4 linked regions of the Homo sapiens genome follow. The protein of the gene in region 2 binds, or shares a complex with, the protein of the main gene of each other region. Each region holds a gene or a part of one and is shown on either strand. Other genes may lie near its edges. The genes, in order: EXOSC6, EXOSC7, EXOSC5 and EXOSC3.

What was found.
Region 1: EXOSC7 (region 2) and EXOSC6 share a complex: the UniProt entries of both Homo sapiens proteins name them as parts of the RNA exosome core complex.
Region 3: EXOSC7 (region 2) and EXOSC5 share a complex: the UniProt entries of both Homo sapiens proteins name them as parts of the RNA exosome core complex.
Region 4: EXOSC7 (region 2) and EXOSC3 share a complex: the UniProt entries of both Homo sapiens proteins name them as parts of the RNA exosome core complex.

Annotation. Positions count from the first base shown.
Region 1 is NC_000016.10:70,248,205-70,256,984, forward strand, and holds the start of EXOSC6 (exosome complex component MTR3), read right to left. Parts: upstream 3,737-8,780; 5' UTR 3,697-3,736; coding exon 2,878-3,696; 3' UTR 1-2,877. Other genes in the region: AARS1 (alanine--tRNA ligase, cytoplasmic), read right to left, coding at 4,517-4,702, 5,064-5,177, 5,510-5,596, 5,715-5,834, 6,417-6,530, 7,524-7,632. UniProt on the Homo sapiens protein: Non-catalytic component of the RNA exosome complex which has 3'->5' exoribonuclease activity and participates in a multitude of cellular RNA processing and degradation events.
Region 2 is NC_000003.12:44,970,826-44,980,091, reverse strand, and holds the start of EXOSC7 (exosome complex component RRP42), read right to left. Parts: upstream 3,849-9,266; 5' UTR 3,815-3,848; coding exon 3,758-3,814; intron 1-3,757. UniProt on the Homo sapiens protein: Non-catalytic component of the RNA exosome complex which has 3'->5' exoribonuclease activity and participates in a multitude of cellular RNA processing and degradation events.
Region 3 is NC_000019.10:41,393,807-41,402,884, forward strand, and holds the start of EXOSC5 (exosome complex component RRP46), read right to left. Parts: upstream 3,554-9,078; 5' UTR 3,523-3,553; coding exon 3,375-3,522; intron 1-3,374. Other genes in the region: BCKDHA (2-oxoisovalerate dehydrogenase subunit alpha, mitochondrial isoform 1 precursor), read left to right, coding at 4,022-4,129. UniProt on the Homo sapiens protein: Non-catalytic component of the RNA exosome complex which has 3'->5' exoribonuclease activity and participates in a multitude of cellular RNA processing and degradation events.
Region 4 is NC_000009.12:37,777,729-37,782,064, forward strand, and holds the end of EXOSC3 (exosome complex component RRP40), read right to left. Parts: coding exon 4,258-4,336; intron 3,153-4,257; coding exon 2,951-3,152; 3' UTR 1,986-2,950; downstream 1-1,985. UniProt on the Homo sapiens protein: Non-catalytic component of the RNA exosome complex which has 3'->5' exoribonuclease activity and participates in a multitude of cellular RNA processing and degradation events.

The sequences.
Region 1 (8,780 bases), on a different chromosome or scaffold from region 2:
ATTTTCTTAGGTATGATTACAATATTCTTGTTATACAGAAGAAAAACCTTATTCTTGGGAGATGCAAACTAAAACATTATGGGTTGAACTGTCATCATGTGTATGGTTTTCAGATGCTCAACAAAAGTGTGTGAGAAAATAAAACTGGCAAAATATTAGTAACTGGTAAATCTAGGTGAAGCATATTATTATGAAATTATTATCGTATTTACAGGTATTTATTTTACTGGTGCATCTATCTTTCTATGAATGTGAGAATTTTCACAAGAGCTGGGAAAATGTTCATAATTATGCATGCAGAATAAGCCCAAGCTGGTGGCATTCTGTTCAGTTACAGGTAATTTTCTGAATCTTCCCTCAAATTTTTCTCAAACCTCTATAATCAAGGGGAAAAATGTTTTGTTTTGCTTTGCTTTTTTGAGATAGGGTTGCCTATAATGGAGTGCAGTAGCTTGACCATAGCTCACTGTAGCTTCAACCTCCCAGGCACAAGCGATCCTCCTGCCTCAGCCTTCAAGTAGCTGGGACTACAGGTGCATACCACCATGCCTGACTTATTTTTTTTCCTTTTTTTTTTTTTTTTTTTTTTTTGATAGAAACAGGGTTTCACCTTGTTGCCCAGGCTGGTCTCAAACTCCTGGACTCAGGCGATTCACCAGCCTCAGCCTCCCACAGTGCTGGGGTTACAGGAGTGAGCCACCATGCCCAGTTAAAAATACACTTTTTATTTAAAAAAAAAAGAGAACACTCCTTATATTTCCTTTATATTTTGTAAACTACATACCCAAAATAAAGCATATCAAAAACTGTAAAAAAAAAAAAAAAAAACCCTAATATCAGATATTCCAGACACAACAATACCATAATTTAATCACTTAAAATCTTACTCAAAACTAAATCAATGATCTTTTAGGCCAGGTGTGGTGGCTCATGATAGTAATCACAGTACTTTGGGAGGCCAAGGCAGGAGGATCACTTGAGGTCAGGAGTTCAAGACCAGCATGGCCAACACAATGAAAATCCATCTCTACTAAAAATACAAAAATTAGCCAGGCTAATGGCACACTCCTGTAATACCAGCTACTTAGGAGGCTGAGGCAGGAGAATCGCTTGAACCTGGGAGGCAGAGGTTGCAGTGAGCCGAGATCATGCCACTGCACTCCAGGCTGGACAACAGAGCAAGACTCCGCATCAAAAAAAAAAAAAAGATATTTTAATATATTCAGATACACAAATATGAAATAAAACTAAGTAGAGCTGGTATTCATTTACACATAATTATCTTATACCGTTTGGAATAAGAATTTGGGGCACGTTAGCAAACCAAAAGGCTCAGAAAGACGTCGTGATATTTAGTTCTTGTCTCCCTCTACAAATGTGAAGCACTCTTCTATCCGGCATTCCTAGTGGAGTTCCTATTTTCAAATTTGCAAATCATTCTGGTGCTAAGCAATCTCAAAAAAAACATTTACTAAAAACCAGAGGAAAAAAATCTTATAACTTTGGGAGGCTGAGGCAGATGGATCACTGAGATCAGGAGTTTGAGACCAGCTTGGCCAACATGATGAAACCCCATCTTCTCTAAAAATACAAAAAGTTAGCTGGGTGTGGTGGCAGGTGCCTGTAGTCCCAGCTATTCCAGAGGCTGAGGCAGGAGAATCACTTGAACCTCTGAGGCGGAGGTTGCAGTGAGCTGAGATCGCGCCATTGCACTCCAGCCTGGGCAACAGAGTGAGACTCTGTCTCAAAAAATAAATATAAAAAAATAAAAAGCTGCTATTCTCCATTAATACCTGCAGGCCCGACAAAGGCAGCCTAGGAATTCTAGATGAATGGAATGAATACAACTTGCTGGAAGTTCTTAGGAAACAAAATGACTATTCACAGAACCAAATAAAAGCCTTCCACTAGAAACTAAAAATAATAATAATAATAATAATGGTTTTATATATATGCATACACAAGCAAAGCCAGAAGAGAATAAATAGCAAATGAATGAAAACTAGAAGCAAAAACAAACAGGAAACCATCTCTACATTTTTTTTACTCAATCGACCCTGAATGCTACAGCATTATCCAGGGCCGCAGAAAACACACATAATACTTTATTCCTGATAAACAATTCGATGTCCTTAAGTCCGCCAATATCACCGTACATTCTGTGCAATCAAGAAATTTACTCAGCTGGGCACAGTGGCTCACACCTGTAATTCCAGCACTTTGGGAGGCCAAGGCGGGTGGATCACCTGAGGTCAGGCATTCGAGAACAGCCTGGCCCACATGGCGAAACCCCATCTCTACTAAAAATACAAAAATTAGCCCGGTATGGAGGCATGTGCCTGTAATCCCAGCTACTTGGGAGGCTGAGGCAGGAGAATGGATTGAACCCAGGAGGCAGAGGTTGCAGTGAGCCAAGATTGCACCATTGCACTCCAGCCTGGGCAACAGAACAAGACTCCATCAAAAAAAAAAAAAAAAAAAAAAGAAAGAAAGAAGAAAAGAAAATTAGCCAGGTGTGGTTGCATGCACCTGTAGTCCCAGCACTTTGGGAGGCCAAGGCAGGAGGATCAATCAAGGCTAGGAGTTTGAGACTGCAGAAAGAAACCCTGTCTCTAAAAAAAAGGTCCAGGTAATTTCAGGGTCCAGCTCCACCACAAGCGCAGCTCCAGGGGCTGTTGAGTTTTGCCTTTATCATTCCAAGTAGTCCCTGCTCCAGACCAAGTCCCACCATCTGGCAGTCAGGTCAGTCCAACCACAGTCATATCAGGGCCCTTCCAGGAATTCTCGACGCAAACTGGAGGCCGATGGCGCGGGTCTTTTCGTGGACGGCGGCAGCACGGTCCTCGGCTTGCGTCCGTAGTTGCTCAGGCTTCTGGTTCAGGGCTGGGCGGCGGCGCCCCTGCGGCGGGCGGCCCGCACCAGGCTCTGCTGCAGCACGGGGTAGAGGCGCTGGCAGCCCTCGAGGCCCAGGCGTACGGCCTCCGCCCAGCTCTCTGTCAGGCCGCCCTCGCCGCTGCCCAGCAGCCCGGCCACCTGATTCAGCACAGGCATGAGCGCCACGGTGAGGCCGGCGGCGGCGCGCTCTTCCTCGAGCCGCGTGGGGTCCAGGAGCCAGGTGGGCGCGGGCCCCGGCGCGAGGCTGAGGCCGCAGCCCACCACCAGGTCGTACATCTCCACGCCCGCGTCGGCCAGGGCGAGCGCGGCGGCGGTGAGCGCGGCGGCCAGGGCCGAGCCACCGTCCTCCAGCAGCAGCGCCGACACCTCGAGCTGCGCGCGCGGGTAGCGGCCCAGGCGCACAGCCGGCTCCAGCGCCTCCTGCAGCGCCAGCGCCAGCTCACGCTCCTCGCAGCCGCCCGGGGGAGCGCGGCGCCGGCGGCCCGCGAAGGGTGCGCGGCGGAAGTCGCAGAGCAGGCGACCGCGCAGCGCGGCCGGGGCCTCGCCGCCTGCTCCGGCCGGGCCGCCGCCGCGCTCGCCGCCCTCGGCCTGTCGCGGGCCCGACACGGCACACAGCACCTTGGTGCCTCCCGCCTCCAGGTAGGCCGAGCCCTTGGCCTGGCTCAGCAGCCCGGCGCGCGCGTACACGGGCCGTAGCCGCGTTGGGTCGCGGGTGCCGGGCGCCTCCTCCTCGTCGGCCGCGTACAGCTGCGGCGGCTGCGATTCTTCAGGGCCGCGGATGCGGCGGTGATCCCCAGGCATGGCGGTTCTTGGCGTGCGAACCCCTTCCGCCCAACGCCCTGCCGCATCCACTGGTTCTTCCGTTGTTTAAAGACGCGCGGCTGCGCATGGGCTGTCGAGAGAGCGGCGGGAGGCACTACAGCGCCCCTGGAGGCCCGGAGGGAGAACGGCCCGGTCCCAGTTGTGCAGGGTAGCCGGATCCATCCATCTTGCTGGAAGGGAGGGGGGAGAGCAGCTCCAAGAAAGGCTTCTCTGCTTCCAACTACCTCCACCCCTCATCTACTGAATTATGAACGCCTTGCTCCAAGTCACCCCACCTATTTGGCCTCCACCTCCACAGACGTTTGAGGCAGCCCTAGGGGCTGTTCCCAAAATTTTGGGTTCTGGGGCTGGACTAGGTGAACACCACAGCAGCCAGCAGGAGCCACAGCATTTATTCTACAGACGCCAAAGGCTGTCAAAAGAGCCAGCCCCTATTGGGAAGAGGGATAGAGATCATGCGGCATTAAGTATTGCACGTGGTCCTTTTATTCTCTGCAGCAAAAACGATTCCTACTTGCTGACGCGGAAAGCTCAGGTCTGGAGAGCCGTTATCTATAGATGCGAGCGTGACGATCAACAGCAATGCGGGGTTAGTGGTTCTAGACCGATGGCACTGACGTGGAGGGCTCAGGGCAGAAATTTAAGGGGCACTGAGACATAGGACTGCTCCCAAGTGTGTTCCAGTTACTGCTGGGTTAGGAGGGGCTCTTTAAAGGTCCCAAGATTCAAATGTTCTTGTAGCAGATGAAGAGCTCTTGGCTGGACGGATGGATCCAGTGGGAGCCTCCTCCTTCCCCACTCAGTTCTTTACATCCCCGAGGCGCAGCTGGGCGAAGGAAGTGGCCAGCTGCAGCGCCTCCTGCAGGCAGCCAACGTTCTTGCCTGTGGCCTGTGCAGACACATCCTTGCCACCACCTTTACCGTCCATCAAGCCTGACACCTGCTGCACCCACTCGCTGGCTTTTAAGCCCCGATTGGCTGCATTCTAGAAGACAGGAAGGGAAGGGGGAGTCAGCACAGAAGATGGGATTGAGGGAGGAATGCAGGGAAAGAAAGGATGGAGGAGCCATCACCCACTCCTTGCCCTGGGTGATACTGCTGGAGGCCGAGACAGACTTTACGGCTGGTACAGGGGGCGGCCATGGCCACTGCCAGGACAGGACAGAGTGGCAAAGCCAGGTATCAACCAGATGTCTTCACCAATAAGAAGGCCTGGGTAAGGGGTACTGGCAAAGGTAACCAACCGGTGGGCAGAAAGGCTGTTTCGAATGCAGGCTGTACACACACAGGCCTCAGCCAACAACCTTAAGACCTAACACTTCCCACTGGTGCGAGGTGGTGCTGACCTGGGGAACTTGACACAGGCACGTGATCTTGCCAGCCTCATTGTCCACCGTGAAGAGCATGGCAGAAGTCTGAGGGGAGTGCATCTTGAAGAGCTTCAAGGCTTCATTCAGGGCCTGTGGGGAGGACCTGGCTCAGGCCACGGTGCTGGAGCAGGGACCCTCACTAGTGTGAGCATTTGCAGCCCTCAGAAGGCCTGCCACCCACCCCTACCCCTTCCCAGAGCAGGGGCTGTGCCCAGGGCCTGTGGGGAGGACCCCAGCGCCGGGCCCTGCCCCTACCCTGGCCCAGGTATGCCTCCCACATGCAGGGAGCTGCTGCTCCTCCCAATCTCAATCCCAGACCGTGGGCCCTTAGGCAACCACTTCGCTCAGAGCCACAGAGGCCACATGTCAGCCACCAGAGAGCTGATGAGCCCTAGGGGAGGGGACCCTGGCCCCTGGGTTGCCTTGGCTGAGGCGCCGCTCTCCATCTCCAGGATGACAAGAGGCTGGTTGGGGTTGCTGTCGATGAACTGCTTCGTCTTCTCTAACACCTGCAAGAAAAAAGTCCAGAACAGCAGCTCAGACCAAAAGCCCAGGCCCCGAACCCCTGGCTGTTCTGCCAGCCTTTGCCTAGGAAACACTCTGGCCACTGGTGCTGCCAGGACTCACTCGTTTCTGGACATCGGCTTTGCTGGCTCGGTCCAAGTCATCCATGACCTTCTTTAGGGATTTGAGAGTCTCCCGCAATTCATCCTTCTGCCACTGGGGGATGACTGCAGTGGCCAGGGCCTGGAACCAATAGACGACCATCTCAATCTGGGCCACAACTTGCTGGGATGTCAGGGTCCAGCCCACCCCACCCGAACCCAAGTCCTCCCTGACTAGTGTCCTGGAAAGGAAAGCAAGGAAAGCTTTGAGACCAGTCCCTTTAGGAGCAGCTGTGGCAGGTGAAACAAGCAGGGCTAGAGAGAAAGGAGCAGCAGAAAGCTGGGCTCCCAAATCAGGCCCGGTCCTTACCAGGCTGGGAACAGCCTGTGATAAGCTTCCTGGCAGCTTGAAATGCAAATAAATACCAGGCAGGCTTGGAAGCAGGGGCCAGCCTTAGCCCATTCCCCAAATCCCTCCACCCCAGTGCCCATACATGCTTGGGAAGAGCTCTCCTGCTAGCAGCACTGGGAGCAGCAGGGAATGTCCAGGGTCCAAGGACAGGATCCATGGGGTCCCTGCTACAAGGCTACAGGACAACAGAAGTCAGCCCAAAGGCCCATTCCACCAAGAACCAGGGCCTGACTGACTACAGATGATTTCCTGAAGACGGGGCATGTTTCATGCACCAGGCCCTGAGGACGGAGGGAGGGAAGCCGCCCCTACCTCTCCAAGGTCAGCGATCTCCCTCTGCACATCCTTGTTTGGAGCAGTCTGAGCCTTCACTTTGGCTTCCATGACAGAGAGACATTTCTTCAAGCTCTCTGCTTTCCTGAGGGCCTGGGAGGGGACACCGGGTCAACCCCAAGCAGGAGGTCTGAGTCAGACTCACTATCCTGTGTCTGAGCAGCTGCGGAAGCCCCGGCGGTAGGCCTTGCAGCAACATACCCCAACACCCCAAAAGTGTCTGTGGGGAGTAGGTGCTGGCAGCCCCAGGCCCCAGCAAGGAGCACAGTGCTCACAGGCCCATTGGCAAAGGCTGCACCCAACTCAGACTCAGGGGTGATCAAGCTCGAGAATCAGGAGCCCCTTCCCCCAGGAAGTGGCCACCCCTGGGGCTTTAGCACAAGTCAGACACACCAGTTCCCATGAAAGAGCACCCATCCTCTACTGCACGGCCTCAGACTAAGCACGCCCCTAGGAGTACATGGATCAGCGCTGGGGGCCCCGATGCCACAGCGAATCTATGTCTTACCCTCCTCCACATGGAGACAGGAGGGGGTAGATGGCCAGATTCACATTTTTTTTTTTTTTTTTTTTTTGGAGACGGAGTCTCGCCCCGTCACCCAAGCTGGAACGCAGTGGTGCGATCTCGGCTCACTGCAACCTCTGCCTCCCAGGTTCAAGTGATTCTCCTGCCCCAGCCTCCCAAGTAGCTGGGATTACAGACGCGCGCCACTACACCCAGCTAATTTTTGTATTTTTAGTAGAGACAGGGTTTCAGTATGTTGGTCAGGCTGGTCTCGAACTCTTGACCTAGTGATCCACCCGCCTCGGCCTCCCAAAGTGCTGGGATTACAGGCGTGAGCCACTGCGTCCGGCCTGATTCACATATATTTTAAAAGACTAAACATAGGAAAGCTAGGAGATCTTGTGTGGTGGCAGGTTTCTTCTGCCACTCAGGGGTAGGACACTGGGGCAGGGGGAGTGGCCCAGCCTGTACTTTCACTCTGACTGCAGCAGCCACGCAGAGCAGTGTTTGCTCTATGGATTCGCAGACTGGGCTCCTCTTGCCTTCTTCAGATAAGCCACAAACCAGCCTGACCTGCTCACCTTCTGGGCCTCGGCACCTGTGACAGCCACAATCCTCCGGATACCCTTGGCAATGGCTTCTTCCGTCACGATCACAAAAGCTCCTGCATGACTCGAGTTCCGCAGGTGCCTGAATGGCAGAACACAAAGTCCATAGTGAAAGAGGCCCTGGCAGCCCTTGGCTGGGGGGTCACACTAGCGGACAAGAGAAGCAGGAATGGGTTGACAGTCAGGGAAAGCCTGGGCTTGAGAGTATTCTGACACCAAGCGGGACACCAGCTCGCTGAGCCTGAGTGTTCTCAGTTCTCAAATGGGGATGATTCTCCCCACACAGTTGCTGTGAAAATCAAATGAGGTAAACATGAAAGTGCTTTGTGGTCCCTAATATCCAATACAGTCTTACCCTTAGGCTCTACGTGACAGTTTTGGTCTTGTAGTGGAACTTAAGCTCCATTTTTGTATTCTGCTCACTAGGTGACAATTTTGGAGGATTACTTTTAAAATCTTACCACAACCCCTTAAACAGGCTTTATTTCTCAGTTCAGAGAACCTCAAATGTTCATTAATTCATCCTCATTCTTTGAAGATAGTATAGTTTTTTTTGTTTGTTTGTTTTGAGACAGAGTCCTGTTCTGTTGTTCAGGCTGGAGTGCAATGGTGTGATCTTGGCTCACCACAACCTCTGCCTCCCAGTTTCAAATGATTCTCTTGCCTCAGCCACCCAAGTAGCTTGGATACAGGTGCCCGCCACCACTCCTAATTTTTGTATTTTTAGTACAGACAGGTTTTCACCATGTTGCACAGGCTGGTCTTGAACTCCTGACCTCAAGTGATCTGCCTGCCTCAGCCTCCCTAAGTGCTGGGATTAAAGGCATGAGGCAACATACCCAACCCTTGGTATAAAGTTTTTGAAAGCTGTTTCCTGTAGTCTAAAGGGTATGAGCAAACAGGTAATCAGGCAAAGTGGGACTCGTTTGAAGGCCCAATTCAGCTGGGCAGAAAAGCCTTGAACTCAATCCCCCAGGCCCCTATCCTACTCTCTGCACATCCTACTTGCTCCCTGCCTGCCAGAGGCCTGCAGGAGACCCTGGAGGGTCTCAACCATGACATTAAGAATGTTCTTTTCAGCCGGGCGTGGTGGCTCACACCTGTAATCTCAGCACTTTGGGAGGCTGAGGCGGGTGGGTCACCTGAGATCAGGAGTTCAAGACCAGCCTGACCAACGTGGAGAAACCCCCTCTCTACTAAAAATACAAAATTAGGCCAGGCACGGTGGCT
Region 2 (9,266 bases):
CAGCCCTTCCTCCACAGTTCCAGCTATCACTGAAATGTGGTAATACTGTTTCCTCCCCTGGCCCCTTTGGAATAGGGGCAGTAGCCACTCCCAGTAGTTGTCTTGGGGCTCCTCAACATCTCTTATTGGTTCCCTGAAACCCCCCCCATACTGCTCTAGAGTCCCATCATAAAAGTCTCCTGAACTACCTGAAGAGGGTTCCATTTTCTGCCAATAACTAAAATGATCCACCCTCCCTTCTCACAAACTGACTTCTCCCAAGTGTGACACATCCTCTAGTGGCCATGTTTGAGCCTAATTATTCTGTCCATCCTTTCCCTCAACCCCCTAAAAGAACTAGAGTTTCTTTCTCTTGGAAACATGAGTTCAGAACTGAACGAGAAGGAATGGTCTCTTTTACAGAGGAACTGGGAAGGAACCACATTTTTTCTACCACTGGCCCAAGAAATAGAAAACCAATCTGTAGGGAGACAAAAACAAAGCAAAGAGGGGGAAAAAAAAAACCAGCAGAGATTAGGATTCCTGGAGAAACACTTGCAGCCTTGTAATCCATACTGTTTTGCTTGAGCCGATGTGTTGGTTACCATTACTAGCAACTGAATCCTCAACACATCGTGAGGTTAATTTCAACTGCTTCTAACTATCACCAAAACAAGATGAAATATTCCCTGAAATAGTAAAAGAACCAAAGGCTGAAGGGAAAGTGACATCAGAAGCTGAAATGGACGTTACTGGACCAAAGGTGAAAAGTAAAACACAAAATGACTAGGACTATACAAGCAACAGGAGTTCAGGCAGGCACTGCTTAAGGTGCACTGCCGGCACTCTATAACCAACGCAACAAAAGTTTAGGAGATTTCAGAACTGAATCAGTTGAGATTCCATGGTAGGCTCATTCACCTGCATCCTGACCTTTATTTGGATGGTGTAAATTGTGTTTTGCTCCTCTATACATATGGCATATTTTGGGCCAACATTAATAAGCCCTTATGAAGACGTTGATTTGAAGCCCATTACTCTGCATGGCTCTGTGATACACAGAGCTGAGCATTTACCAACAACTGTGCCCAAATATGTCCATGGTACTGGTGAGAGGGAGGTTTAATTTAAAAAATAAAAACACCATCCAACTCATTCCCCCTTTAAAGCTTACATCACCCATTCAATGCTACTAAGAACCTACCAAGTGCTAGACACTGGCTATGCCTTAAGGGTCCCCCATACAGACAAGTCAACAGGCTATTGCCTTCCAAGATCCATGATGAGCGAATGACTGAACCTCTAAGACCTCTAGGATCGTGCTTCTGGCCACCTCTGCAAGCTGATCTTCCACCATTTCCCCCAGCCCACCCCTTGGGCTCCACATGTCCTCCACCTGAGGATTTACAGACTCACCACCCCTTCCTTCTGGAACACTGGTGCCTACTTAATTCTCAGTCATGCTGAGAACTCAGTTCAAATGCTATTTCCTTAGGGAAGCCTCCTCTGACCTCCCAGTCTAGATCGTGTCCGTTTTTTCCTTCATAGCATTCAGTACAATTTTATATATAAACACTCAAGTACATTTATAGTTTCTGCATCTTCCTTCTAGCATGAGAGCTATATAAGGACAGGTTCCTTCCTAGCCCCTGAGTCTAGCTCAGTTCTGTGTTGAATGAATGAATACTGAGTCCTGAAGATACAGAGGAGGAATCCTTGACATGGATTTAGGGGAGCAATTCCACCTCCTTAGGGAAGCCTTCAGAGCATTACAAGTCCCTGGAATTCTTTTTATTTATTAAAAAAAAATTATTTCTTTAGAGATGGGCTCTCACTGTGTTGCCCAAGCTGGTCTCAAACTCCTAGGCTCAAGCAATCCTCCCATCTCAGCCTTTCAAAGTGCTGGGATTACAGGCGTGAGCCACAATGCCCGGCCCCTGGTATACTTTAACTTCAACCTCCACTAACTATACCACTTCCTTGGCATAGATCTTACATTACCTTTGTTTTTATTTTATTCACTTTTACTCTCTGTTTGTCTCCCTCCTATCTTTCATTTATTTCACAACCATGTTTTGGCATCCCTGCTGTTTCCCACATAACATGCCAGGAGCTAGATATATGTTGGTAAATAAAATTAACTAATGACCATGGTGGGACTCTGCTGCTGGATAGCTAATGAACTGCCGTGGGAATTAAGGGTGCTGGGGAGAAAGCTCTAACCTTGAGGTTACAGATATATCCATGCCTCAGTGCCACTTTCAGGGATGAAATGTTGAGAGAAAATAGGACACATGACAGAGTCACTACATCATGGTAAGCTCCGGTAACAAAGAAGACCAAAGGTTTTTAAATTTAGAGGAAAACGGTTATCCGTAATGTGTCCCTAAAAAAATACTTTGAGGATAAAAATCACCTGAACAAAGTGTATACAAAAATATAGCAGGGAAAGACATATCTAACTGCTTTTGGGCATTTTTATGCCCCCTCACACACAAATAACATACATGTTACCCTGTAATACACACATATGTCCCACTGTTGTTAATCCTGAATTATAACTAAAATATGCAACTGTGAGTTCTGACTTTATTATCCAGGCATAATATGCTAAATATTGGCATTTCTTCATATATAAAGGGCCCAGAAGATAACGGCAGGTCACGATTTTTAAATGGACATGTCCTTAACTCACGTTGTGGGACTTCAATGATAGCTGGCCGCTTCAATCCGATGGCTACATCACGGGACCACTGACTTTGCAGTTGGTACTGACAGAGGAAAGGCATGAGGAAAAGAGGTAGGAGCTGTCGCCAGAACTCTGCCAAGGATGGGATGAAGAACTCTGATAGGAGGACCACACCGTAGGTTAACAAGTGGAGACACAGCCGGAGGAGGATACAGGGTAGCTCGTTACCAGGTCCAACATTTTTCAACCCTCGTTCTGGAGTGGTCATAACCAGGGATTTAATATAGAACACAGAGGACATTAGGTTATAGCTGCCTAGGGATCTTAGTTCTTCATTGGCAAAATGGAAACAGCACTTAGGCTATCGGCTGCCTAGCCGCTTTTTTTTTGAGACTCGGCTCACTGCAACCTCCGCCTCCCGGGTTCAAGCGATTCTCCTGCCTCAGTCTCCCGAGTAGCTGGGACTACAGGCGTGCGCCACCACGCCCAGCTAAATTTTTTTGTATTTTTAGCAGAGACGGGGTTTCACCATGTTGGTCAGGACGGTCTCTTGACCTCGTGATCCGCCCGCCTCGGCCTCCCAAAGTGCTGGGATTACAGGCGTCCTAGCCGCTTTTTAAAAACCCTTCCCCCTTTATTTGTACGGCAATTTGTATTTTCAAAGTGCGTTCACCTCGCATGCGCCCTCCTAACCACGAGGTGAGGAAAAGCAGGCCAGAAGCCCACCTCCAAACTCCCATTTCCTCGAAGAGAAAACTGAGGCTCGGACAAGATCTGTGCGCGAACGCCGAATGGATGGCCCTGGGGCCGATGCTCTCTCACTAAGAAAAGGCCTCCGAGACTGCCCAAGCTTCCTGCCCGGGTTCGGAATCTTATAGACCCGCAAAACTGCAAATGCGCTAACAGTCCTAAAAACGTCCACGTTGCCAGCTCTGAATTGCAAACGCCGGCAGCAGAACCGTTTAATCACAAGGTAAACGGAGAGTCGCCGCAGCTCGGCTGCCTCCTCACTGGCAAACCCAGGGCAGGCCGCGACCCGCAGGGCCAGGCTGAACCCGGCGGCCGACCCAACGCCGCTGCTGTAGCTACCTGGACGCCATGCACGATGTACACCTTCTCCGCCTCGCTCAGCGTCACGGACGCCATGCTGCCGAGCTGCCCCACGAGCCGCACGTCATCTGCGCGCGTCCCCTCCTCTGGACCGCGCCCCCACGTCCCACCCCCCCCCGCCCCGCGTCAGCGCGTCATCAACCTGCGCGGCGGCCGCTCCTGCAGCCGCGGCCGCCGCCACTGCCGGGAGAGCTCGATGGGCTTCTCCTGCGCGCCGCCCGGTGTCTGGCCGAGTCCAGAGAGCCGCGGCGCCTCGTTCCGAGGAGCCATCGCCGAAGCCCGAGGCCGGGTCCCGGGTTGGGGACTGCAGGGGAAGGCAGCGGCGGCGGCGGCGGGAGCCCCACCGGGGTCTGGGACTGGGGAACTGCCTCCGGCTTCACGGTCAGTTGGGAAGGGAAACTGGGGTAGGGGTGAAGAAGCTGGGGTGAGGCGAGCCTCACGGGCCGGGGGACTCCCAGTGGGAGAGGCGTGCGGCGTAGTTGCTCAGAGCTGGAGTTGACTTAGGAGCGTGTGTGTGTGTGTGTGTGTGTGTGTGTGTGTGAGAGAGAGAGAGAGAGAGAGAGAGACCCCGACTAAGGAGGGGCGGACGTCGTGATTGGCCCGGGGGTGCTGTTTCCCTGCTCTTCTCCCCTCCATTTCTCTAGTCCCTAGGATGGCTGGAGAGGCGATGCAGCCCTCCCTAGGTAGTTCTTGGTGGGAAGGGTCCGGGAATGGGGGACACTAGTCCTAAGGCGTCCCCACCCCTCCACCCAGGAATATCTCTCGCTGGCTCGCTCACTCTCTGTGACCGAACGCTGTCCCATTACCTTGCTGGGACCTCTTGCCTCGGGTGCTTACCAGAGCGTTGTCCCACAGACGGGGGAGGAGGCGCTTGGTAACCGGCACTGGCGAGGTGCGCAGTGCCCGGACGTCCCCAACGCTTCCTAGCGGGAACTGGAAACCCCGGCTTGATGGAAGTGATTACTGGGAGCTGTGAGCAGTTGCCCGAAAAAAAGCCAACCCCAACCCCTTGCGATGGCCGAGTGGGAGTATGGGCATTGGATACCCGGAGAGGATATCTGCAAGGTGAAGCTGGGGTCACCAAAGGAACTCATTAAGGCGGGGCTGACAAAGTATGGTGCAAGTTTTAAAGGAGCCGTGTGGATAAATGGGAGAAAGTTAACCCAAATTAGTTGAAGCAAGGAGGGCAGGTTAAAGCAATTCTGATGACTTTCCTGATGTTCCATTTTTGAGGACCCTCAGCCAAAAAAAAAAAAAAATGGTATTTATCAGATAGTGGGTTCAAATACAGTTTCAGATAACTATTGGGAGCCTACTATAGATAGGCTTTGTGCTACCTTTAGAACACAAGACAAGTAAAACATACTATGCCCAGAGAAGTTCCCTGGGCAGATGAAGGCTCCAGGGCCAACATAACCACAGATCATGGTGGTTAGAGCTATGATGGTCGCATCAGTGGGCACAGTGGGATTGGGAGGTCGTCTGATAAGGTTATAGAGAGGAAGTGCTTGCTCACATTCTTAAGCATTAAACTGCTGAGCTCCAAAATTGATGATCAGTTCTTCGTAGACTGGACATTAGATGTTTCTTATGTCTCTACGTAATTCTCCACAGGGGCACCTAAAAGGAAGACAGCTTGCAGGGTTGGACTTTGCCTTCCAGGGAAACTGAAAGAGGTGAAGCCGGAAGGATTTCCTCCCTAATGAAGGCACAGGTGCCCCACCTGTTGTGGCACTTAGATGTGTTTGTGTGTGGTTGGACGGCTGGGTTTTATGTGAGGAGCTCTGTTGTGATAAGATAACATGAGATTGCTGATGTTATAAATGATATTTTCTAGATGTGCTAGAGATTGCTCAGAAAGGAGAGACCCTGGAAGTGGGATTTTAGAAGCTAGGATATCTGAGGAGACTGAGGATTTAAGAGGTGACAGCAAATGGACAGATCAGAAAGACACAGGAAGAAAAGCCTGAGTTCAGATACCATGGAGTTATCTTTATATAAAGATTTTCCAATGTCTTAAAATATAGAACATGTATTTGAACTGTCCCCCCCTCACAATTGACGGGAATTCCATACTGGACAAGGGTCTGCAGTATTTGCTAAATAATGTTATGAACGATGTCTTATATATTAGGCTAAGTAGGTAAGAGAGATGTAAACAGTAGAATGTTCCTTTTTAAATTGTCTACTAAAACAATGACAGTCTTCACTAATCATTCGGCTTAAATGCTGCCAGAACATTTTTATCACCTTTGCTGTAATAGTGCATTGGACGTCTTTAAAATCCATAAATTCTGAGTTCTTTTTTAGTGTATTGAAGTAATTCAAAGAACATATGATAACCAAAAAAATCAAGAAGTCAAGGATGGCACAGTATTAAACCGTCTTGTTTTTCCATCACTATTAGATTCATTTATTGAATGAATAAATGAATTGGGGCATACTATTCTGTAGGTTTGTGTATTCTAAAACCTTATACTCTAATTTTCAACACTAATTTACATAGTGCTTATTGTATGCCAAGCATTGTTCTAAGCACTTTATAAAGATTAACCAGGCTAGGTGCGGTGGCTGACATCTGTAATCCCAGCACTTTGGGAGGCCGAGGCCGGTGGATCACCTGAGGTTGGGAGTTTGAGACCAGCCTGACCAACATGGAGAAACCCCATCTTTACTAAAAATACAAAATCAGCCGGGCATGGTGGCGCATGCCTGCAATCCCAGCTACTCGGGAGGCTGAGGCAGGAGAATCGCTTGAACCCAGGAGGCGGAGGTTTTAGTGAGCTGAGATCACGCCATTGCACTCCAGCCTGGGCAACAAGAGCGAAACTCCATCTCAAAAAAAAATAAAAATAAAAAATAACTGATTCAATCCTTGCAACAGCCCTGTGATGCAAGTATTCTTATCCCTATTTTACAGATTGGGAAATGAGGCACAGAGAGGTTAAATGCCTTAACCAGGGTCACAGGTTACATCATTGGTAAATGGCAGAACCAGGACTTGAGACCAGGCAGTCTAGCTCTCCTGCCCATACTCCTAACCATCACCTTACACAGCCTCCCCCCAGGTTTTATTACATTCACCAGATTATTTGGTGAAGGAAATCCCAATTTTGTTATGGCGTTGGTAACTGTCCTATGAACTATATAGTTAATCTTAATTCCAAAAGCAAGAAGTCTGTTCAAGCATAAACTCATATCCCTTGAATCATTTTTCTAGAGGAACATGGAATGTGGTGCTGATGGGATGTTGCTGTGTCTGTTGCAACCCAATATTTTAAACAAGGTAAAAGGTTATATATGAGCAGAATAAGAGCTTAACTCCAAGTAGCTAAGGAGAGAGCCCTCAATGGCAAAGATGGCTGATAGATCTGGTACTAGGGTTGAGTAGCATGCATGGAGACCCAGATTCCAACCGTATGCCATACTCAGATATCTAGAAACTCCAGACAGTGTGTTTGCATGCCTGTGAGTCCCTGGTGTTCTTATGGGCATAAAGAGATAAACTCAAAACACAACACCTGCCTAAAAGTAGTTTAGAATTTATTATAGTGGGGGAGCCCAGGACCTCGAACTACTGCATGAACAAGACAATAAAATAAAGTGCTCAATTGAGACGTGGCAATTAGAAGAGAGGCCAGCCTATAATAAGGTGCTAATTGTGCAGGCCAGGTATCAAATACAAAAGGTAAAGAGCTGCTGCTAGCCACAAGCCGGCAACAATAACATGACAGAGATGGAGTAACTCTGTCCCACCCATCCTTGGTTAATTAAACCAATAAAAGCCAGTTACAAAAGAGCTTCAGGGCAATGCTGAGTCTGTGGTGCTGATGTTGCAGAGAGCTTTTTTGGAGACAGAGTCTTGCTCTGTTGTCTAGGCTGGAGTGCGGTGGCACAATCTCTGCTCACCGCAACCTCCGCCTCCTGGGTTCAAGCAATTCTTGTGCCTCAGCCTCCCGAGTAGCTGGGATTACAAGTGTGTGCCACCACTCCCGGCTAATTTTTGTATTTTTGGTAGAGACTGGGTTTGGCCATGTTGGTCAGGCTGGTCTCGAACTCCTGGCCTCAAGAGATCTGCCTGCCTTGGCCTCCCAAAGTGCTGTGATTATGGGCATGAGCCACCATGCCCAGCCATAGAGAGCTCTTAAAAGCCCAGCAGGAAACCTTCTGTTCCCAGTCCTAAGCAGACATGGCCATGTTTTAGGCCTTTTCCTTTGCATTTTCACCATTAGCCCAGCACCCTTGAAATGTACAAAGTCAGTTACCGTTTTGCCTGTAGATCTGTTTCCTTTAAACACTTTGCATTTGTCCCGCCTGTACCTTGTCTTAAAAGAATGAGGTGGGAGGATCCCTTAAGCCCCGGAGTTTGAGTCCAGCCTGGGCAACATAGACCCCATCGCTAAAAAATAATAAAATAAGTAATAAAATAATGATAGAAATGAAGAATATCTGTAAAGAATACTGTCATAGTCTGGCCAGCAGGTCTTCATCTGTCTTCTAGACATTGTAACTTGAGATTACAGTGATAGAAAAATTGCTAGTAATACATGGGTAAAGCTTACTCTTAATTAGAGGAAAAGTTATACAGTCTTCATGTGTGTTTCATTTTGGGAGAGTGACAGCATGTTTCCTATGTCTCATTAGGGCATATTTGAGAAAAGGGGGTAACAGATCCTGCTTACCAAATGTAGAAATATTTAAACACACACACCCTGATAGCCATGGAAAGTAACAAAGTCTCAAGTAGAAGTGGAGGGGTGATGTCTCAGTGTTGACCTGTTGGGGAAAAAATGAGGCTCATGCCATGCTGCCTTTAGTTCCTTCCTGTTTTGCATTTTAAAAAATCATTTGCTTTCCTCCTCGGAAGCAGATTTCCAGAGACAAATGGCCAGTTCATTCATGGCTGTCAACTGTGAAGGTGAGAAGGCTCCAGGTGCATGTCCCACTTAATTCAGTCATACATCCTAATACATTTGGAATGCATGGGAAATGTCATCATTTCATAGTCTCCTCCAAACCATAGACTTCGTAGTATGTATTGACTTGGCACTTGAACTCTTGGCAAGATATGAATATGTATTTCCTATTCAAGGTCAGTGGAGATGCAATGCCTTTGAGTGAGATCACTTTCTTACCTTAGCAAGGTAAGCCTAATGAGACAAGTACAGTTCTGGCCACAGTCCTGTTGCAGTAAAGTCTTCAGTATGTGAAGTGTATGTTTCTAAACCAAGAAATAGTAGCAGAGAATCTAGAAAGACAGGTTGTTTAGGAAGATAACAATCTATGGTAGAAAGACTTCCGGGCATCTTAGTCCAAAGATTTGGGCTTTGCTATTAACTTGCTTTATGACTTTGAACAAGTCAGTTAACCTAAGTCTCATTTTGCCCTCAAGTGAGTATCTTGCCAGGTTTTTAAACTCAGAATGGATCCTGGATATGCAAATATTTGAATATTGAAAAATGACCATGTTTAAATTGGGGTTTTTAAG
Region 3 (9,078 bases), on a different chromosome or scaffold from region 2:
CCTCCCAAAGCGCTGGGATTACAGGCGTGAGCCACTGTGCCCGGCTGGTATTAGTAACTTTTAACAGGAAGTTCTTCCTGAAAGCTAACCATCCTCCCTCTTACTGCAGCTGCTCTCAACTTCTCTTTCCAAAGCTTCCCCAGCCCAGCTCTTCCCTTAGGCACTGGCCCCCAAATTTTGCATCAGTCTGGACACCTGAGAAAGGGATAATATCTGGAATGAATCCTGATTCCTTATTTCCCCAGAAGCTATGAACGGGGTACAGGAGGTAAAACCTAAGAAATAAACAGCCTGGCTTCTAGTACTGTCTGCTGTAATCCCAGCACTTTGGGAGGCTGAGGTGGGTGGATCACCTGAGGTCAGGAGTTTGAGACCATCCTAGTCAACATGGTGAAACCCTATCTCTACTAAAGATACAAAAATTAGCTGGGCATAGTGGTGGGTGCCTGTAATCTCAGCTACTTGGGAGGCCGACGCAGGAGAATTGCTGGAACCGGGGAGGCGGAGGTTGCAGTGAGCCGAGATCACACCATTGCACTCCAGCCTGGACAATAACAGCAAGGCTTAGTCTCAATAAAAAAAAAAAAATACATTTTAGGCCAGGCATGGTGGCTCACACCTGTAATCCCAGCACTATGGAGGCCCAGGTGGGAGGACTGCTTGAGGCCAGGAGTTTGAGACCAGCCTGAGCAGCATAGGAAGACTCCTGTCTCTATTTTCTTTTTTGGGACAGAGTTTCCCTCTGTCACCCAGGAGGCTGGAGTGCAGTGGCGCAATCTCAGTTCACTGCAACCTCCGCCTCCCAGGCTCAAGTGATTCTTGTACCTCAACCTCCAGAGTAGCTGAGATTACAGGTGCGTGCTACCACATCCGACTAATTTTTGTATTTTTAGTAGAGATGGGTTTTCACCATGTTGGCCAATCTGGTCTCAGAACTCCTGACCTCAACCAAGCGAGGTGGCTCACGCCTGTAATCCCAGCACTGTGGGAGGCTGAGGCAGGTGGATCACAGGGTCAGGAGTTCAAGATCAGCCTGGCCAACATGGTGAAACCCCGTCTCTACTAAAAACCACAAAAATTAGCCGGGCGCGGTGGCACGCACCTGTGGTCCCAGCTACTCAGGAGGCTGAGGCAGAAGAATTGCTTGAACCCGGGAGGTGGAGGGTGCAGTGAGCCACGATCACTTCACTGCACTCCAGCCTGGGCGACAGGGCGAGACTCCATCTCAAAAAAAAAAAAAGAAAAAAAAAAAAAGAACTCCTGACCTCAGAGGCCTCCCAAAGTGCTGGGATTACCGCTGTGAGCAACTGCACCCGGCCTCTTCTTAATTCTTACGTTCGAAGAAACTTTAGGTATCTCAATTCAGCATAAGCGCTAAGCCTGAGGGAGGGCCTGGGAAGGTCCTTGGTTAAGGCCGTATTTCCTGGGAAGCCCAATTTGCCCTTACACGGAAGGTATGCTTAGTTCCAGGAGAAACTGCCCTGAGGACTGGAGAAGTTACCAAAACAGAACTTGCCTCTGGCTCCAGATGAACTGCCTGTGTTTTGCCCGAGCACAAGAGTCTCTCCCCTCTCACCTTCTTGAAGACGTGGCTCCAGCAATTCTCTCCCCTGTTGACCCCACAACAATCTACAACTCCTGCCCCACTTATCTGATCCTCTTACAGCAGAACTCCTGAACAGCTGCCTCTTCTTCCTTTTCTGTGACCCCACCACTCCATTGCGGCAGCTCAACATCGTCACCACTGACCTCCAAATGATCAACCCTCCCATGACCCGGCTGTCAGTAAGGCTGAAACAGCTGGTCAGCCCTCACATCTCAGACATGCTCTTTTCTTGGCCCCAGGTCACCACCATCTCCTGGTTTCCCCCTAACTCTCTGGGCGTTCCTTCTGAGTCTCCTTTGCTAGCTTGTCACATGTCTCTGACTGCTCAAGTTGGAAGGCCTAGGGCTTGGTCCTGGGACCTCTTCTCTTTTCCATCTACACTCACTTCGTTCAGGCAATAGCCTGAAATACCATCTATATAGCCAGAGAGTTCCAAATTGCCTATGTCCAGCTTGGGTCTCTCTTCTGATTTCCAGACTTGTACAGATCTGGGCAGAAACCTTAGTTATGCCTGAATCTTTTTCCTCGCACTCAAACCAAACTATACGTAAGTTTTGTCCGTATTACTTTCAAACTACATCCAGAATCTCATCACCTCCACTACTCCTGCTCTGGCTGGAGCCACCATCACCTCCCTGTTTTCCCCCATACTCCCCACAATCAACACAGCAGCCAAATTTTGTTAAAATGTATTGGGGCTGGGCGTGGTGGCTCATACCTGTATGAGCACTTTGGGAGGAGGATTGCTTGAGCCCAGGAGTTCAAGACCAACCTGGGTGACATCGTGAGACGCTGTCTCAATTTTTTTTTTTTTTGAGACAGAGTCTTGCTTTGTCGCTCACGCTGGAGTACAATGGCACGATCTCGGCCCACTGCAACTTCTGCCTCCCAGGTTCAAGTGATTGTCCTGCCTCAGCCTCCCGAGTAGCTGGGATTACAGGCGCCCGCCACCATGCCTGGCTAGTTTTTGTATTTTTAGTAGAGACAGGGTTTCGCCATGTTGGCCAGGCTGGTCTCGAACTCCTGACCTCAGGTGAGCCACAGGTCTTGGCCTCCCAAAGTGTGGGGATTACAGGCGTGAGCCACCGCCCCCGGCCTCCCGTCTCAAACGTTAAAGAGAAATATTCTTGGAGTTAATCTACTTCTGAGAGTTATTTAGCTAGGAAAAGGGGATATTTGCTCTATAGGTAAGACTTGCCCTAATCTTTTTTTTTTTTTTTTTTTTGACTTGCCCTAATCTTAGGGATATTTACTTGTGTGGAGAGATGCAGTGAGGTAGCGGTGGGGATGTATTTCTCAACCCAGCGCAATGACATTATCTTCAATTTGAGGAGTATTTACGTGGGTGAAAGATCCGCCACAGTCCACAGTATGCAAATAGACAGGTTTGCTTCAGTCCGGGATGCAAGGACCTAGAGGGTGTGTGTGTGGGGGGTGGGGGTGGGAGGGTGGAGGAGGAATCGAGTTAAGGGGGATATTTACCCTGGCGAGGTGATTTTCCCTATTCTGAAATATCAATTCTTGGGCGGACAGTCTGCCCCTCCTCTCATTCTCAGAGATAGTTACAAAGATGGAACTATCTTCTCCTTTCTAGTCGTGAGGGAGAGATGTGTGTATCCCTGCGTATTTAGTAGTATTCAATCGGACAAGAAATCATGCATCAACGCAGGAGTGACATTTACCAGCTGGTATCGTGAGGAGGTGGGCACTCGGTTGCACAGTACACGGTAGTCCCTCTCCAAAAGAAAGACCTGGGTGAAGTTCTTACCTTGCAGGAAGGAAGCAGAGCCATCTGGCCGCGACAGCAGGTTCTGTTCGCAGGCAAAGTGCCGGAGGCTGCAGCCAGGACCCCGAGGGCTGGACCCTGTTCCATTTTCAGCACGGATTTTGGCGTCAGTATGCGTCTCCTCCTCCATCGCGCCGAGCCCACGTGCGGCTGCAGTTGTCACTTCCGCCTGGCAGCGCGCGCCGCAAACAGGCTGCGTAACCAGTGCGCACGCGCCGGGCTGGGCCATCCTCCTGGGCGTCCGCACGTGGCTTAGCGTTTACCAACAATCTGGCTCCGCCCAGTCCCACCTCCTAACTCTGGCAACGCCATTGGACATTTGGGAACAGAAGGCAGGCCTTGGCATTGATCCGCTTTACTCTGGGCCCCCGGGCCCTAAATCCCTGAGGCCCTGGTCAGGTTGCCCTCTTCTTTGCCTGTTACAGGAGTAACTACAATGAGGCGATTGGAGAAAATTTTGGGTAGATAGATTTTTTTTTCTCCAAATCTCTGTGCATTCTATCTACCACAGAACGGGAAGAAGATGGTTTTCTTGTCAGATGGTGCTGGAGTTTGCGTCAGGCACATAAAGAGGCAGCCCCGAATCTAGCCTACGTGAGTGCCGGACCGCTGAGTGGTTGTTAGCCAAGATGGCGGTAGCGATCGCTGCAGCGAGGGTCTGGCGGCTAAACCGTGGTTTGAGCCAGGCTGCCCTCCTGCTGCTGCGGCAGCCTGGGGCTCGGGGACTGGCTAGATCTGTGAGTACCTGGGCCCCAGGCGGTTTTCCCAAAGGGGATTAGGGATGTAAAGGCTATCTTCAGAGTGTGGGGTCCCTGAAGGATATGAAGGAAGGGCTGTCACAAAAGGGAAAAAGAGTGGGAGACTCCTTGGAGAAGACACCGAAGGGAAGATCTGCCACTTCCTTAGGAGACGAAAAGAACTTCCACTTCTTTAGGAGAGGAAAAAACCCGTTTGCAACTTCTTTGTGGGCCCTGAGGGAGACGACTTGAAGAGAGAGATGGGGGTTCCTTATTAGCTGCCACTGGTATTCAGGGGAGGCTCCTTGGAGGAACAGGGGAAGACCGCAAGACCTTCTCCCTCAGGGTTTGGAGAATGAAACTGACTTTGTAAGGGAGGGACTTTCTTCTGGGCAAAGATCCCTCTTCAAGAAGAAGAAAGAAGAGAACAGGTCCCTGTCACAGGCTGCATAGGGCCTTGTATTTCTTTGCTCCTTTGCCACAATTCTGATTTTAAAATGAATTGTGTAAAAAATTTGTTTGATTCCTGTGTCTCTTGATCGAATATCAAGACAGAGAATTCGTGTGTTCTGGACACTGTACAGAGGAGACGATTAATATTTGTTGAATTAATGAGGGGAAAAAAGGAGGGAGAGAGGTACAGACAGGGCACTTTGCCCACATTTCTTAGAAACACTTGAGAAGGCTTTGTTTCTTGTCAAAAGGGTCACAATCCCTTCAGGTGGATGCTGCTAAGGGCAAGATTACACTGCAAAAAACCTAGGTGGAAGCCTATCTTTAGACGGGGAGAGGCAATGGGTTGCAGAAGAGCTTTGAACTACAGTTGACAGATAGGAGAGTAGTGGTTACATGGGTGGATGCATGTCCTTGCTCTGCCGCTTTCCACTTGTGTAGCCTTGGCCAACGGACTGCACTTCTCTGGATCTATGGAGCTAATTTTCCTCTCTAAAATATTAACAGTGGCCACCTCATAGGGCTGTGAAAAATCAATATGTAAAATGCTAAGGACTGGACCTGGCACATCCTAAGGGCAATAGGAATGTTGATAGTGAGGGTGGAGGGAAGGGACAGAAACTAACCTTGGAGATGGGGAGAAGAAAGGGGTGACCTTGGGAAGGCCTGGATTGGTGAGGCCCTGGGGAAAAAAATCTGAAAAGATATTGTGAGGTTGAGTCTGATCCTCTGATCCCCAATCCATAAGGAGGGGAAGATGGAATCTGTAGAAAGAAGCTCTGGGTAGGGGAACAAACGGGAGGAGGGTGAAGAAGATGGGCCAGGAGTAGGACGTAGTAGGTATCTAGGAACGGAGTCACTTGAAACAGGTAAATACAGAAGGGCTGCAGGAGCAAGGTGTGGGTAGGGCAGTCTCTTGCCTTTGGGCTGGAGACCTTTTCACTTTTTTTTTTTTTTTTTTTTTTGAGCAGTTCATATCCTCCACAGCTGATCTCAGTCCCAGGGGCCCATTGGCTGGGCAAGTGGGGCAGGAGGTGGGCAGGACTGGGGCAGGCTAGGGAAAGGTCATTTATGGCTGATTAAATCTTTCTCTCCTGTCTCAATCTCTTGATTACCTTTCCTCTTGCTTCCCCTACTTCATTTTTGGTGGGGAGTGGGGAGGGAAGAAGTCCCTACTTTTTATTTATATATATTTAAATTTGTATTATCTTAAGAGTTATTGTTTTTTCCCCTTTATTTCTCCCACCTGTTCTTTCTCTCTTCTTCTTTCTTTCCTCTCCTTCTCCTCTCCTCTCCTCCCCTCTCCTTTTTCTTTTCTTTTCTTTTTCCCTTTCCTTTCCTTTCCTTTTCTCTTCTCTTTTCTCTCTCTCTTTCTTTCTGTACCTCTCTTTCCTTTTTCTTTTTTTTTCTTTTTTGAGACAGAGTTTCACTCTCTCGCCTAGGCTGGAGTGCAGCAGCATGATCTTGACTTACTGCAATCTCTGCCTGCCGAGTTCAAGCAATTCTCCTGCCTCAGCCTCCCTAGTAGCTGGGATTACAGGCATGCACTATCACGCCTGGCTAATTTTTGTATTTTTGGTAGGGACGAGGTTTCACCATGTTGTCCAGGCTGGTCTCGAACTTCTGGCCTCAAGTTCCGCCTGTCTTGGCCTCCAAAAGCATGAGCCACTGCGCCTAGCCTTTTCTTTTTTTGAGACAAGGTCTCACTCTGTCACCCAGGCTGGAGTGAGTGCAGTGGTGTGATCATGGCTCACTGCAGCCTCAACCTCCTGGGCTCAAGCAATCCCCCCACCTCCACCTCCTAAGTAGCTGGGACCACAGGCACGTGCTACTACGCCTGGCTAATTTTTAATTTTTTTTTTTTTTTTTGAGACGGAGTCTTGCTCTGTCACCCAAGCTGGAGTGCAGTGGCACGATCTCGGCTCACTGCAACCTCCACTTCCCAGGTTCAAGTGATTCTCCTGCCTCAGCCTCCCAAATAGCTGGGACTACTGGCGTGCGCCACCATACCCAGTTAATTTTTGTATTTTTAGTAGAGATGGGGTTTCACCATGTTGACCAGGCTGGTCTTGAACTCCTGATCTAAGGTGATCTGCCCGCCTCGGCCTCCCAAAGTGCTGGGATTACAGGCATAAGCCACTGTGCCTGGCTGCGCCTGGCTAATTTTTAAATCTTTGTAGAGATGGGGTTTTGCCATGTTTTCCAGGCTGGTCTTGAACTCCTGGACTCAAGCGATCTTCCTGCCTCAGCCTCCCAAAGTGCAGGATGACAAGCGTGAGCCACCTTGCCTGGCCATATTATTAAATTATCATGAGTTTAAGTTTAAGTAGCCACAAGTGGGCTGGGTGCGGTGGCTCATGCCTGTAATCCCAGCATTTTGAGAGGCCAAGGTGGGCGGGTTGCCTGAGGCCAGGAGTTCAAGACCAGCCTGGCCAACATGGTGAAACCCCATCTCTACTAAAAATACAAAAAAATTAGCTGGGCGTAATGGCGTGTGCCTGTAGTCCCAGCTACTTGGGAGGCTGAGGCAGAAGAATCGCTTGAACCTGGGAGGCGGAGATTGCAGTGAGCCGAGATCGCACCACTATACCCCAGCCTAGGTGACAGAGCAGCCCTCTGTCTCAAAATAAGATAGCCACAAGTGGTTGGTGGCTGCCACATTAGATGGTGCAGGGTTTTTGTTTTGTTTTGTTTTTTGTTTTTTCGAGGTGGAGTTTTGCTCTCATTGCCTAGGCTGGAGTGCAATGGCATGATCTTGGCTCACCACAACCTCCTCTTCCTGGGTTCAAGCGATTCTCCTGCCTCAGCCTCCCGAGTAGCTGGGATTACAGGCATGCACCACCATGCCTGGCTAATTTTGTATTTTTAGTAGAGACAGGGTTTCTCCATGTTGATCAGGCTGGTCTTGAACTCCCGACCTCAGGCGACCCACCCACCTCGGCCTCCCAGAGTGCTGGGATTACAGGTGTGAGCCACCATGCCTGGCTAAGATGATGCAGTTTTATCCAGGTGGAGATGAAGAAATAGTCAGGGAAAGGTTGAGAGGCTGCATATTGTAGACAGATTGGATTACTGGGTTCACTGGGGAAGATTGGATTAGAAGGAGGAGTGGGGCTGCTTTACTTGTCCCCGACTTCTTGCCCCTGCTCTGCCCACTCCTTCATTGAATACCCTGCTGCCCTGCAGATGTGTTTGCCTGATTTTCACCTCCCTTCCTGTCTCTGTTATCATAGCAGACGTTTTAGTGCTCAGGGAAAGGAGGAGGAAGGAAACTCAGATTGTCAAGGAATTGTGAGTCAGTTTCTCAGCCACTACCCCAGGCCTGGGCTTGGCTAAGTCATTTCACCTCTCTGACCCTAGCTAGTGGGGTGAATAGAGTCCCTACCCTGTTGGAAGTCAGGAAGCCCCTGGAGCTCGCTCTGTGCTAATTATCGGTGACTATTTCTGTGACCCAGCTCTTCAGGGGCAGCCTGTCTGGGGGTTCCAGTGCCCTGTGCAGTATCTCCAAGTGGTAGGTACTCAGTGTATGTATTAGTCCGTTTTCAGGCTGCTAATAAAAACACACCCAAGACTGGGTAATTTATAAAGAAAAAGAGGCTTAATGGACTCACAGTTCCACATGGCTGGGGAAGCCTCACAAACATGGCGGAAGGCAAATGAGGAGCAAAGTCACATCTTACATGGTGGCAGGCAGACAGAGTGCTTGCAGGGGAACTCCCCTTTATAAAACCATCAGATCTCGTGAGACTTATTCAGTATAATGAGAACAGCACGTGAAAGATCCACCCCCATAATTCAATTACCTCCCACTGGCTCCTTCCCACAACATGTGGGAATTATGGGAGCTATAATTCAAGATGAGATTTGAGTGGGGACAGAGACAAACCATGTCAGTGTGTATTGTGGGATGAATGGAGATGGTCATTACAGTCTTCTAAGTGTATGGGTCCATCTCTTACTTGCTAGTGTGTTAAGAAACCTGGCCTCCTTTTTCACATCTTGAGGCACTGAATGGTTTACAAATCCAACTCTAATTTTTTATTATATTTAATACACCAATAGTGCAAGGCCTTTATTGGTAGTACTCTCCTATTACAGATGGAGAGACTGAGGCTCAGAGAGGTGAGGTCTGAACTTGGAGCTCTGGACTCCAAAACCCAGTTTCTTTTCATGGTACCAGGCTGCCAGGAGGAGAAAGGATGGAGCTTAGATTCAAGTCTTGCAACATTCTTCTTAGTCCAGTATTGGCTTATTTTGTTTTATATTTTTTTGAGACGGAGTCTTGCTCTGTTACCCAGGCTGGAGTGCAGTGGCGTGATTTCTGCTCACTGCAACCTCTGCCTCCTGGGTTAAGCGATTGTCCTGCCTCCCCCTCTCGAGTAGCTGGGACTACAGGTGTGTGCCACCGTGTCCGGCTAATTTTTATATTTTTAATAGAGACAGGGTTTTGCCATGTTGGCCAGGCTGGTCTCGAACTCCTGGCCTCAACTGATCCA
Region 4 (4,336 bases), on a different chromosome or scaffold from region 2:
GTGGCCAGGTGCTCACGCCGTAATGCCAACACTTTGGTAGACCGAAGTGGGCAGATCACCTGAGGTCAGGAGTTCACGACCAGCCTGGCCAACATGGTGAAACCCTTCTCTACTGAAAATACAAAAATTAGCCAGGTGTGGTGGCGCATACCTGTAGTCCCAGCTACTTGGGAGGCTGAGGCAGGAGAATCACTTGAACTCGGGAGGCGAAGGTTGCAGTGAGCCGAGATTTCACCAGTGCACTCCAGCCTGGGTGACAGAGCAAGACTCCATCTCAAAAAAAAAATAAATAAAAAAAAATGCAGCTGCAGGAGTGAGGCGCTTGGAGGTACCTTGACCCAAAGAGCAGGGCAGAGGGTGGCAGTGGCACATAGGCAAGTGTCTTTGCATGACATCTTCTCAGAGCTTCACAATAATGTCAGGGACCACATTTAATGCTTTTTAATCTCCCATAGTGCCTGGCTCACAGGAAGTGCTCAGATATGTTAAGTAATAAAAAGTTAATGTGGTGGGTGCAGTGGCTCACGCCTGTAATCCCAGCACTTTGGGAGGCTGAGGTGAGTGGATTACAAGGTCAGGAGTTCCAGACCAGCCTGGCTAATATGGTGAAACCTCGTCTCTACTAAAAATACAAAAATTAGCTGGGCATGGTGGTGCGTGCCTGTAGTCTCAGCTACTCAGGAGGCTGAGGCAGGAGAATCGCCTGAACCCGGGCGGCGGAGGTTGTAGTGAGCCAAGATCCAGCCTGGGCGACAGAGCCAGACTCTTGTCTCGAGGGGAAAAAAAAAAAAAATTATGTAACAAGGAATTAGCCTCAAAACCACATGGCTTTGGACGTGCTAATTCAACTTTTGTACATCTATTTGTGAGAGACCTCTTGAAATTGTTTAAATGGTTACATCAAGAGTTTAATATTCACTAAACTGGCATCATAAAATTGTATGACTTTCTCCAGCCTTGTCTGATCATGCTCGTTGTTGCCCAGCTCAGTAATAAGCTTTGCAGGATCCAGCCTGTTCTGACCTATCCCTACTGAGTCCCCATAGCATTTTGTTCCCTCCTGTGGCTCTTACCTTGTTCTCCCTTGCAGAGTATGGGCATGGAGGGCTTCTCTTCCTAATCCTTCCTAATGGTAGGATCCTAACAGGACAAATCTGTGTACCTATCTTTCTATCCTCCCTGAGCCTGTACCAACTAGATTCTTCATATGTATTTGTAACAGATTAAATTGGAAAGCAAACACAGTATTGATTAAGTCTGTCTTGAAAATAGCTAGAAAGTGTTAGACACATGAACACGTTAGATAACCTACTTATTACACAAATCTCATGTTCCTTATGTCCCAGTTGGACATATTTGCTTCAGTTACTCTGACAGTTTGGGTTAACTTGCTAGTTAAGCAGCTAGCAAATTTGGGACATGTATTCAATATCTCAAAAGAACCAACAGATTACTTCTCTGCTGTGTCCCCTCCCCTTCACAATTTAATTCCTAAGGAACTGTTCACCTAATCAGTACTTTTCTATTTAAAAACTGGCTAGACAGTTCATAATAAAAGATATGGGACCAACCTAAGTACCCATCAACCAATGAATGGATAAAGTGTGGTATATATATCCCATGGAATATTAGCCATAAAAAATGTCTTTTGCAGCAACTTGGATAGTATTGGAAGCTATTATTCTTAGTGAAGTAACTCAGGAATGGAAAACCAAATACCAAATGTTCCCACTTTAAGTGGGAGCTAAGCTACAGGTAAGCACACAGAGTGGTATAACAGATACTGGAGACCCGGAACAGGGAAGGGGGAAGGATAAACTACATACTGGGTACAATATATAGTACTCAGGTGACTGGTACACCAAAATCTCAGACTTCACCACTATACAATTCATCCGTGTAATCCAAAACCACTTGTACCCCTAAAAGCTATTGAACTAAAAACCATCCAGTCCTTAGAAAACATTAGAAACACACGAAGCTCCTTGGTCTTTATCAACAAATAGAGTTCTATAATCTCTTTGATCCAAAAAGGACTTTCTATGGATAGGCTTCAGGGGATCTGTATCTCACATATTCTCAGAGGTCTAGAAACCAAGAATCACTGATGTGGATCACCTGGCAGTCTCTTTACCTCTAAAGGTTTTGGTTAATATACTAAATAGCATAGAAGAGTTTTCTATGCTTAGCTCCTAGGAAATGATTTTAGCAAAATAAGACTTGGCCAGATTTGGATTCAGAAATCCTCATAGTGTTATTTATATAATGATAAAACTCAAAAATATCCTGTAACATGAAATATGTGACTAAAGTTGTGAAATGTATCATGCTGTTTGAAGTAGACAAAAGTATATTACAAAGTGGCATATAAGCTATAATAACTATAATTTCAATTTGATGAATATAGAGAATGTAGGCCAAGTTAAATTCTGTGCCTCAGTTTCAATTATGAGGATAAGTGTCTTCTGCAGTTAGAATAAAGGAGTTAATCCATGCAAAACACAATACTTGGTAAATGAAAAAGTATTTCGTTGTTATATACTCACCCGCTGAATAATGGGACTACAGGTGACATTTCTTTGCTGCTTTATACTTAGGTATTCCACATTTCCTCTGGTGAACCTGGCTTACTGTTATAATCACAAAATTATTTTACTGCTGACCTCCAGTTAATTATGGAAGCTGTAGCAATTACTAAGGGAGTTAACTCCAAATAAACCCTAATACTGTTTTTTAGTAAACTTTATTGTACCGAACAAAAAAAATGATTTTGCAATGATTTTCTCTCCCACAAAAGCGTGGGTGAAAACCAGTAACTTATAAAAATACTTTCGGACTCTAATAATACATACATTCACACCTTATCTTCTGAGTATTTAAATGGGGGAGGTTCACCTGAAAAAACCCATAGTTTTTTGCCTCAACTGACCTGTAAAAAAGTCCACCTATATCAACTTTCTGCCAATCTGGAGAAGATCTGTTTTCTTTGATCTGACGTCATGTGTTCACAAGCTTCTAAAATGTTTGCCAAAATTAAAGTCTGCTGGATGGTTTTTGCCTTAACCCATATTCTTCCATTCATTCCAAATACTATCTCCAGTGGATAGAGTTTTCCCACTTCCTGTATGATTTCACAATCTGGAGCTAATAGCCTGGTGGGAAGAGAAAAGAAAATGAAATTTAATGAAGTGGCAAAGGTGTGTCCGGAGTCTCCTTTAGAATGTGATTCCTTTTCTGAGCAGTTCTCCATAGCTGTTCAACAAGAACAAGGCACGTGATGACATTTGCTGCCTCCTTTCTTCCAAGAAGGAACTTTACACTGTTCAAAGGTATACTAGAAATCACAGAGGTGGGCTATGCCTTACAAAGAAATCAAACTCCCTAGGTTACCAACTTTGTAAAAGTCATTCCCCTAGATGGTCAGAGCACTTTAATTCTAGACTGGGAATCATAACTTTTTTTATCTACAGTGTTAAGACACTTTAAACTTATTTTCCTGGCCATATTATTCTCTTGTGTTAAATTCAGTACTTGGAGAGGAACATTGGCTCTTTCAAACCATAAGGGTGGTGCTTGGTTAATAACATGCTTCTTGGTTAAAAACATGCTTCTCTGATGTCCAAACTTAATTCTCCAGATCTTTAGGATATGTAGTAAGGAGAGGCATACAAGATAGCTCTCAACTTCACTGGCTCTAGGAGTAAAGCCCCTGAATATGGCACAGCTTTGGGTGGGTAAAGTTCTAAACACCAAAAAGAGAATCTGCCTCAGCATGAACCTCAGTATGCCTCAGTATGACCAAGTGTCAGAAGCCTTCTGTGAATGTCTACATAACCTTGAACATCACAATCTAAGCTGCGTGTGACCCCCATAATTAGAAAAAATTGATAATTTTATACAACTGCAGACTGCATCTGTATTCAAGTGACTCAGAACAGGGGAAAGGCCAGTTTTCACATTTGGGCTAAGTCAAATAAGCAACAGGCCTGGGAAGGAAGATATGAATACAGAGTAAGAGCTTAAGGCATGAAGTATCAGCCCACCAGAAACTACACAGCCAAACACATCTGAATTTGATATGTTTCCAAGAAGATAGGATTAAATTCATGAGTTTCCAAATGTGTTAAAATGGATACTGATTTCTAACTCTGAGGAGAAATTCAAACGTTACAAAGAATCTGAATCCTGAAGATTAACCAACTTTCCAAGAATGTATAATTATAAAAAGCAGTCAAGCCAGCAGACATCAGGACTTACTTTCTAATTAAGCCCAGAGTCACTTTAAAAAGCAGACCATCCTGTCCAATGACACCCATTCCATTGGCTCGTCCACAGC